2 linked regions of the Homo sapiens genome follow. The protein of the gene in region 2 purifies or fractionates together with the protein of the main gene of each other region. This does not show direct contact. Each region holds a gene or a part of one and is shown on either strand. Other genes may lie near its edges.

The links.
Region 1: the proteins of PPM1K (region 2) and ALDH1L1 purify together in Homo sapiens (co-immunoprecipitation; one large-scale study listed by IntAct). This does not show direct contact.

What each region holds. Positions count from the first base shown.
Region 1 is NC_000003.12:126,173,294-126,178,567, forward strand, and holds part of ALDH1L1 (cytosolic 10-formyltetrahydrofolate dehydrogenase), read right to left. Parts: intron 1-5,274. UniProt on the Homo sapiens protein: Cytosolic 10-formyltetrahydrofolate dehydrogenase that catalyzes the NADP(+)-dependent conversion of 10-formyltetrahydrofolate to tetrahydrofolate and carbon dioxide.
Region 2 is NC_000004.12:88,263,696-88,268,969, reverse strand, and holds part of PPM1K (protein phosphatase Mn(2+)-dependent 1K), read left to right. Parts: intron 1-63; coding exon 64-229; intron 230-635; coding exon 636-780; intron 781-3,834; coding exon 3,835-3,969; intron 3,970-5,274. UniProt on the Homo sapiens protein: Serine/threonine-protein phosphatase component of macronutrients metabolism.

The sequences.
Region 1 (5,274 bases), on a different chromosome or scaffold from region 2:
AATAATAAGGCATGGGAGGGAGGAATCAAGAATACTCTGCAATAAGGCCCTTACACTACCCATAAAGTTGTATAGTGTTATTCAAAAGCAGACTTAAATTAGATTTAAGTGTATATTGCAAACTGTAGGTCAACCACTAAAAAAGCAACAACAAAAAAGTAAAACTGATATGCTAAGAGAGAAAAGAAAATGGAATCATATAAAATGCTCAGTTAAGATCAGAAAAGGCAGAAAAAAGTGTGGAAGAAAAAAGAAACAAAGGGCAAATAGAAAACAGTAATAAATATGGTAAATATTAATCCAACTATATCAAAAAATCACTTCAAATATCAATGGTGTAAATATACCAATTAAAACATGTGACTATCTAGAGTGAATAAAGAATCGTGACCTAACTATATGTTGTCTACAACAAACCCATTTCAACATAAAAACCAGATAGGTTACAAATAAAGGGATGGAGAAAGATATACCGTGCTACCACTAATCAAAAGAAATATGGAGTAGTTCTATTAACTTCAGATAAAGCAGACTTCAGAGAAAGGAAAATTATTAGGAATAAAGAGAAGCACTACATAATGGTAAAGGAGTCAATTATCCCAGCAGACATAATACTCCTTAATATGTATGTGCCTAACAACAGTGCTAAAATGTGTAAAGCAAAAACTGACAGAATTTTAAGGAGAAATAGATGAATCCACTATTATTACAGTTGGAGACATCAACACCTCTCTGTCAGTCCCCACTAACGTTTTTTTTGGGGGGGCGGAGTTTCACTCTTGTTGCCCAGGCTGGAGTGCAGTGGCACGATCTCGGCTCACTGCAACCTCCGCCTCCCGGGTTCAAGCAATTCCCCTGCCTCAGCCGCCCGAGTAGCTAGGATTACAGGCATGCACCACCACGTCCGGCTAATTTTGTATTTTTAGTAGAGCCTCCATGTTGGTCAGGCTGGTCTCGCACTCCTGACCTCAGGTGATCTGCCCACCTCGGCCTCCCAAAGTGCTGGTATTACAGGCGTAAGCCACCGTGCCTGGCCAGTACCCACTAACTGATAGATCCAGCAGGCTGGAAATCAGTAAGGACATAGTTGAACAGCACCATCAATTAAGTGTATCTAATTGGCATTTAGAGAATACTTCACCCAACAACAACAGAATACACATTCTTCTCAAGTTCACATGGAATATTCATCAAGACAGACCACATTCTGTGCCATAAAACATACAACAACAAATATCAATGACTTCTATGATGGAGATTACTGAGATCACAACAGAATCACTAGAAATCAATAACAGAAAGATATCTGAAAAACATTAAAAAAATGGAAACTAAATGACACACTTCTAAACAACATGTAAACAAATCAAAGAATAACTCTCAAGAAAAAATTTAAAATATTTCAAACTAAATTAAAATGAAAATATAACATCAAAATTTATGGGATGCTGCTAAAGTAGTGTTTAGAGGGAAATTTAGAGCACTGAATGCATATATTATTAAAGAAGAAAGAGCTAAAAGCAAGTTTCCAAATTAGGAAACTAGAAAAAGAAGAGCAAATTAAATCCAAAATAAACAGAAGAAAGGAAATAATAAAAATTACAGCAGAACTTGTGAAATTGAAAACATGCTGTCAATAGAGAAAATCAACAAAACCTAAAGCTGGTTCCTTGAAAAGATGAATAAAACTGAGACACCTCTAGCCAGGTTAACTAAGAAGAAAAAGAGAGAAGACTCAAATTACTAATATCAAAAATGAAAGAAGGGCCATCAATACTGATCCTACGGTCATTAAAAGGATAATAAAATACTAGTATGAACAACTCTATATCAACAAATTTGGTAAGTTAAATGAAATGAAACAATCCCTTGAAAGTACAACGTTCCAAAACTCACACAAAGAGAAATAGATAATCTGAATAGGCCTATACTGATTAAAGAACTGGAGCCAGTAGCCTTCCAAAATAGAAAGCACTAGGGTTAATGAATATGACTAAACATTTAAGAAAGAAATTATGCCAATTCTCTATGATCTCTTTCAAAAAATAGAAGTAGAGGAAATTCTCTAATTTTCTTGGGTCAGAATTACCCTGGTACCAAAACCAGAAACATTACAAGAAAGGAAACTAACAGATCAATATTTCTCATAAACATAGATGTTAAAATCCTCAAAAAAATCAGCAATTGAATCCAACAATGTTTAAAAAGAATTATACATAACCACCACATGGGATTTATTCTAGGTTAAACATTTGAAAATCAATTAATGTAATCCATCGCATGAATAGGCTAAGGAAGAATTATATGATCACATCAATAGATCCAGAAAATGCATTTGACAAGAATCTAACATTCATTTATGATAAGAGCTTTCAGCAAGCTAGTAATAAATGGGAACTTAACTTGATAAAGAAGATCTATGAAAAACCTACAGCTAACATCATACTTAATGGAGAGAAACTAGAAGCTTTTCCCCTAAGATCAGAAATAAGGCAAGGATGTTCCCTTTCACCCTTCCTAGTCAACATTATACTGGAAGTGCTGGCTAATGTAATTAGAAAAGAAAAGAAAATGAAAAGTCTACAGATTGGGAAGGAAGAAATAAACTGTTCTTGTTCTCAAAAAACATAATTGGCTATGTGGAAAATGCCAACAAAGCAACAGAAAACTGGAAATAATAAGTTATTCTGCCAAAGTTGCTGGATGTAAAGTCATGGTTAATATACAAAAATTGATTACTTTCTTATATACTAGCAATAAACAATTGAAATTTGAGATTAAAAACACAAAACCATTTACATTAGCACCAAAAAGTGAATTATTTATACATAAACCTAAAATAGGTCAAAATCTATGTGAGAATAACCATAACTGATGAAAACATAAAAATATGTATAAATAAATGAAGAGATAGTACATGTTCATGGGTAGGGAAACTCTATACTGTCCAGATGTCAGTTCTTTCCGACTTTATCTATAGATTCAATGCAATCCCAATCAAAACCCCAGCAGTTATTTGTGGATATCAACAAACTGATTCTCAAGTTTATTTGGAGAGACAAAAGACCTGGGATAGTCAACACAATATTGAAGGAGAACGAAGTTAGAGGACCGATACTGCCTGTCCCCAAGACTTTACTATAAAGCTACAGTAATCAAGACAGTACGGTATTGGCAAAAGAATAGTCAGATAGATCAATTGAACAGAATAGAGAGCCCAGAAGTAAACTCACATCAATACAGTCAACTGAACTTTGACAAAGAGACAAAGGCAAGACAATGGAGAAAATCTGCATTGCACAAAAATCACACAAATATCTGTACACTGATGTTTACAGCATCTTTATTTGTAACTGCCAAAACTTGGATTTGACTTTTTAGATACAACAACAACAGCACAATTCATGGAGGAAAAAAAATGGTACATTAGACCTTATTAAAATTTAAAACTTCTGCTCTGCAAAAGACACTGTTAAGAGAATGAAAAGACAAGCCATGGTTGGGGAGAGAAGACATATCTGGTAAAGCACTGTTATCCAAAATATACAAAGAACTATTAAAACTCAACAGTAAAACAAACAACCCAATTTTAAAATGGGCCAAGTAAATTAACCGACATTCACAAAAGAAGATATACAGATGGCAGAGAAGCATTTAAAAAGATGCTCAACACTGTAAGTCATTACAGATTGCAAATTAAAATATAACAATGAGATACTACTATATGCGTATTAGAAGAGTTAAATTAAGAGCACTGACAACAAATGCTGATGAGGCTGTGGAGCAACAGGAACTCTTATTTATTACTGGTAGAAATGAAAAATTATGCCACCACTATGGAAAAAGGTTTGGTAGTTTTTTATAACACGAAACATACTTTTACCATGTGATCCATCAATCGCTCTTGATATTTACTCAAAGGAGAAGAAAACTAATGTCCACACAAAAACCTGCACACAAATGTTGATAGCAGCTTTATTCACTGCTAAAACTTGGAAGCAACCAAGATATCCTGTAGTATGTGAATGGAGAAATAAACTGTGGTACCTCCACATCCATACAACAGAATATTAGTCAATGATAAAAAGAAATGGGTTACCAAGTCACAGAAAGACATGGAGGATGCTTAAATGCATTTTGCTAAGCGAAAGAAGCCAGTCTGGAAAGGCTATATACCATATGATTCATACATACTATATGACATTCTGGAAAAGGCAAAACTACAAAGGCAGTAACCAGTGGTTGCCAGGGATAGGTAGGGGGGTTGGGGGGTGGATGGGTAGAGCACAGGAGAGTTTTAGGGCAGTGAAACTATTCTCTATGATACTGTAACACTGGATACTCATCATTATATGTTTGTCCAAAACCATAGAAGGTACAACACCAAGAGGGAATTCTAATGTAAATTATGGACTTTCATTAATAACATTGCATCGATATTGGCTCACCAAGTATAACAAAATTGGCCAGGCCTGGTGGCTCACACCTGTAATCCCAGCACTTTGGGAGGCCAAGGCGGGCTGATCACTTGAGGCCAGGAGTTCAAAAGCAGCCTGGCTAACATGGTAAAACCCTGTCTCTACTATTATAAAAATACAATAATTAGCTGGGCATGGTGGTGCACCTGTAATCCCAGCTACTCGAGAGGCTGAGGCCCAAGAATTGCTTGAACCTGGGAGGCAGAAACTGTAGTGAGCTGAGATTGTGCCACTGCACTCCAGCCTAGGCAACAGAGCAAGACTGTTTCAAAAAGAAAAAAGCTGTAACAAAAATATCCTATCAATGCATGATGTTAAAAATAGGGGAGGCCAGGCCTAGTGGTTCATGCCTGTAATCCCAGCACTTTGGGAGGCCAAGGCAGAGGATCACTTGAGCCCTTGAGTTCAAGGCCAGCTTGGGCAACAAAGTGAGACCCATCTCTACAAAAAAATTTTTAAATTAGCCAGGCGTGGTTGTGCATGCCTGTAGTCCCAGCTACTTGGGAGGCTGAGGCATGAGAATCACTTGAGCCCAGGAGTTCAAAGCTGCAGTAAGCTGTGTTTGTGCCACTGCACTCCAGCCTGGGCAACAAAGTGAGACCCTGTCTCAAAAAAAAAAAAAAAGAAAAAAAAAAAAAGAAAGGAAAAGAATAGAAAGAAAAATAGGAGAAAGCGCGCAGGAAGGGACAGACTGAGAATATGGGAACTCTGCACTCCGTCCTCAATTCTTCTGTAAACCTAAAACTGCTCTAAAAATGTCTACTAATTGAAATAAATAAATGAATCTAGCTCTATA
Region 2 (5,274 bases):
AAATTCCATATCCAATCATTTGACTGTCACTAACTTGTACTCTTTTTTTCATAATACTTGTAGCAACTCTTCTGACCTCTGGGACTACTGCAACAGTAGCCCTATTGCGAGATGGTATTGAACTGGTTGTAGCCAGTGTTGGGGACAGCCGGGCTATTTTGTGTAGAAAAGGAAAACCCATGAAGCTGACCATTGACCATACTCCAGAAAGAAAAGATGAAAAAGAAAGGTACTACCACCACTGATCCATCATATCATTCTATGTGGATGATGTTTTTAGTTCATAATAGTTTTTAAACTGATGTCATGGTTAAGTTTAACAGTGACTTGGTTTTCTTTTTGTTTTTTTGAGACAGAGTCTCACTCTGTCGCCCAGGCTGGAGTGCAGTGGCGCAATCTTGGCTCACTGCAAGCTCCACCTCCCGGGTTCACACCATTCTCCTGCTTCAGCCTCCTGAGTAGCTGGGACTACAGGCGCCTGCCAACACGCTCGGCTAATTTTTTGTTTTTTAGTAGAGACGGGGTTTCACCGTGTTAGCCAGGATGGTCTCGATCTCCTGACCTCGTGATCTGCCCTCCTTGGCCTCCCAAAGGGTTTTCTACATATCACACCATTGTCATTTAACTTTTAACAGGATCAAGAAATGTGGTGGTTTTGTAGCTTGGAATAGTTTGGGGCAGCCTCACGTAAATGGCAGGCTTGCAATGACAAGAAGTATTGGAGATTTGGACCTTAAGACCAGTGGTGTCATAGCAGAACCTGAAACTAAGAGGATTAAGGTAAGAAAGGACCTGCAAACACTTGATAAACCTGCGGAGAGTGAATGTAGGATTGTCTCTGCTGCACCTTTCTTGGAAGCCTTAACTGAAGCCAAAATGATTTTTAAAAGGGAGTAATTTATGGAAGGATAAAAAAACTTTTCAGGTAAAATAAGATGCTACTATTCTGGCCTAATTTATTGTAGAGGACAAAACAATTCTCTTTTTCCCCCTTTTTAGGTTCTTAGTTGAGACACTTTCTTGAAAATAAAAGTCAGATTAACTACAACAACAACAAACAAACAAGCAGACATTTGCACGTGCTGAACCCATTGTACGGGAAAGGCCTCAGTTAAAAGTATTTCTCTTCCAAGGCAGTGGCTTAGGGGCTTTGCTTAAATTGTATTTAAATAGCCATAGATCCTGCATAGTGACAAGATAAAGAAGAGAACAGTTTCAGTCTTTTAAAAGTCAGGAAAATGTGGAGAGATAGTAAAACCTGTTCCCAGATTTCTCTGGTGCCTGCTGGTTCCTTCTCTGGGCCAATAAACAAGTGCTGTCTCCAGTAAAGAAGGACTGATGTCCTGCCACCAGGCAAGTAGAGGCTGAGGAAGTGTACCCCTGCCTTTTCAGTGACTTGACTTTAGCAATCCTCAATATTTCGGGGAGAAATATTTTGGCTTCCCTCAGTTTGAAGTGTTAGGTTTTTGTTTCACCCCAGCTATGGAATTCTCCTGGTGAAATGGTCCTGCTGTTCTTCCTCACCTGCACCCAATCAGCCAGCATCACCTGCACTCAATCATGCAGCATCACCTGCACCCAGTCATCCAGCATCACCTGCACACAATCAGCATCACCTGCATCCAATCAGCCAGCATCACCTGCACCCAAGCAATCAGCATCACCTGCACCCAGTCAGCCAGCATCACCTGCACCCAATCAGCCAGCATCACCCACACCCAATCAGCCAGCATCATCTGCACCCAATCAGCCAGCATCACCTGCACCCAATCAATCAGCATCACTTGCACCCAATCAGCCAGCATCATCTGCACCCAATCAGCCAGCATCACCCGCACCCAATCAGCCAGCATCACCTGCACCCAATCAGCATCACCTGCATCCAATCAGCATCACCTGCACCCAATCAGCATCACCTGCATCCAGTCAGCCAGCATCACCTGCACCCAATCAACCAGCATCACCTGCACCCAATCAGCATCACCTGCATCCAATCAGCATCACCTGCACCCAATCAGCAGCACCTGCACCCAGTCAACCAGCACCACCTGCACCCAATCAGCATCACCTGCACACAGCCAGCATCACCTGCACCCAATCAGCCAACATCACCTGCACCCAATCAGCCAACATCGCCTGCACCCAGTCATCTAGCATCACCTGCACCCAGTCATCCAGCATCACCTGCACCCAATCGGCCAGCATCACTTGCATCCAGTCAGCCAGCATCACCTGCACCCAATCAGCATCACCTGCACCCAATCAGCTAACACCTGCACCCAATCAGCCAGCATCACCTGCACCCAATCAGCCAGCATCACCTGCACCCAATCAGCATCACCTGCACCCAATCAGCCAACATCACCTGCACCCAGTCAGCCAGCATCACCTGCACCCAATCAGCTAGCATCACCTGCACGCAGTCAATCAGCATCACCTGCACCCAATCAGCATCACCTGCACCCATTCAGCCAGCATCACCTGCACCCAATCAGCATCACCTGCACCCAATCAGCCAGCAACACCTGCACCCAGCCAGCATCACCTGCACCCAATCAATCAGCATCACCTGCACCCAATCAGCCAGCATCACCTCCACTTGGAAGCTGCCCCAACTTCCCTTTTCCACCAAGCCAAATAATCGCCCACCTCTACTTCTGTGGCATCCTTTGCATGCTACTAATCAGTGTCTTCATTGTCCTGAACTGCCCCCCAACACACACCCAGTCCATGAGCTGACAGTTCTCTAAAACTCCTGAGCCACTATAGTCTCTAGCACAGTATAGTGTAGGCTTCCAAAACTGGCAGCAAACACTTGTTAATTAATTGCATGAAGGGTTTCAAGTCTATAGATATCCCACATCGTGTGTTATAGATATCCCACTTCATTTTATCTAACAGATACTTAGGCAGAGTTTACTATGTGCTGGGCTCTGTTCAAAATAAGTACTACTATCCCCATTTTTCAAGGAAAATCTAAAGCATACAGAGGTCAATGCACCTCTGCTCACCCAGCCAGATAATAGAGGCAGGATTCAAATCCTAGAAGCCTGCTCTTAGAGACAGCACTCATAACCATTACATTGAGCTACCTCTCACCATTGGGCTATCTGGATTCTCCCTTTGTGATGTTAAATTATGGAATTAAATCAAGATATCTTGAAGGGTGTTTGCTAAATTGTTAGGCGTGATTACCTCTGGTGATGGGATTTCAGAGGATTGCAACTTCTTTACTCTTTACTTTTAACTACTATTTATATTTTACTAACTAAATATTAGCTTTATCCTTGCTGGTTAATTCTAAATGTTACTACTTTTGCCCAACAGGTAGGCTTTACATTTTCACTGTTTGCCTATGTATTGGTCTGTTCTCACACTGCTAATAAAGATATACTTGAGACTGGGTAATTTATAAAGGAAAGAGGTTTAATGGGCTCACAGTTCCACATGGCTGGAGAGGCCACACAATCATGGTGGAAGGTGAAAGAGGAGCAAAGTCATGTCTTATATGGTGGCAGGCAAGAGAGCATGTGCAGGGGAACTACCCTTTATAAAACCATCAGATCTTGTGAGACTTCACTATTATGAAAACGGCATGGGAAAGACCCACCGCCATGATTCAGTTACCTCCTACCAGGTCCCTCCCACAACACATGGGAATTATGGTAGCTATAATTCAATATGAGATTTGGGTGGGGACACAGCCAAACCATATCAGCTTACAAGCTGTTACACAGATGACCGCTTAGCAAAACAGGTAAAATCTTTGAATTAGCGAGATTGTGCTAAGGCAGAGTCTAGCTTATAATCATAGGCATTTGGTTCTGATTGCAGTTACATCATGCTGATGACAGCTTCCTGGTCCTCACCACAGATGGAATTAACTTCATGGTGAATAGTCAAGAGATTTGTGACTTTGTCAATCAGTGCCATGATCCCAACGAAGCAGCCCATGCGGTGACTGAACAGGTGACCCAGAGCTTCTGCCTGAAAAGTCCCAAGGAGAAGGAAGGAAAGGACAGTCCAGGCATTGTGTTTTAGCTTTTGAGTGTTGCAGTGAATTTTACACTTGATTCCATAATATTTCCAATTATAAAATTTTTATTTCCCCAAGTTAAAATTTTAATATGCCAAGGAAATGTGCTTTGTTTATTCTTTGGCTTTGTATATACCTTGAAATGATAGTAACAGCAATAGTAAATTATAATAGTAAACTAATATTCACTTGCTATGTGTCAGACAATATTCATATGTATTAGCTCATTACTGTATGTATTGTACAGTATGTACAGTTACATATATTGTAATCATCACAATAACCCTATTAGGTTGGAGCTATTATTGTCCTTTTTCACAGATGAGGAAAACAGGTACAGAGGCTACAGAGTTAATCACTGAAGGTCATAAAACTATTAAATTGCAGAACTGGACTTCAAACCCAGACAACTAGGTTCCCAAGTCCAACCACTTGACCGTTAAACTAGAGTGCTCCAAGCAAATATCCAATTTGAAGATATAGCATAGTCACCTTCTGGTTATTCAGAATGGGTGTGTGGAGAAGATAAACCAAAATACCAAAAGGCATAGGGATGAGGTTGTGTGTCAGTCAGAACTAAAATTAAAAGAAAGCTGGGTAATATCCAGTAAAGAAAACATAAACTATGCTTCGTATTATTTAAAATATTAGAGGCATGTTTTAATTCAACAGCTATTTTTGCATTTCCCAAATTAAGATAATAGACCTTACTTTAAAAGTATTATTTGCTTAGATGGGCAAACATGATTATAATATATGAATTATTCATTTGGTTACTGCCTTCACCCGTGCTAAACAGGGTATTCATGAAATTGAGGAAATAGGCCCAATTTCATGGATGAACACTTCTTTCCTAATTTCAGCTGCCTGTCTTGCAGATATTTGCATTCTAATTCACAAAGGTAATGAAATTTGTAATGAATGCATAGTGTTCCATTTTATTCTTATACATAATTCATTTAACAGTTCCTCTGGTCAAGAAATTTAGTTTATGTTTATTTTTTCCATTCTATAGAGGAAGCCCAGTAATAAACATTCTGATGTCTATTTGTGCATATCTGTTTCCTTCAGGAAATAGGTTTCATTCTTAGGAATAGTATCCAGGTGTGGTGGCATGCATGTATAGTCCCAGCTATGAGGGAGGATGAGGTGGGAGGATTGCTTGAGCCCTTAGAAATACAATCTTTAGGCCAGGTTTGGTGGCTTAGACCTGTAATGCCAGCACTTTGGGAGGCTGA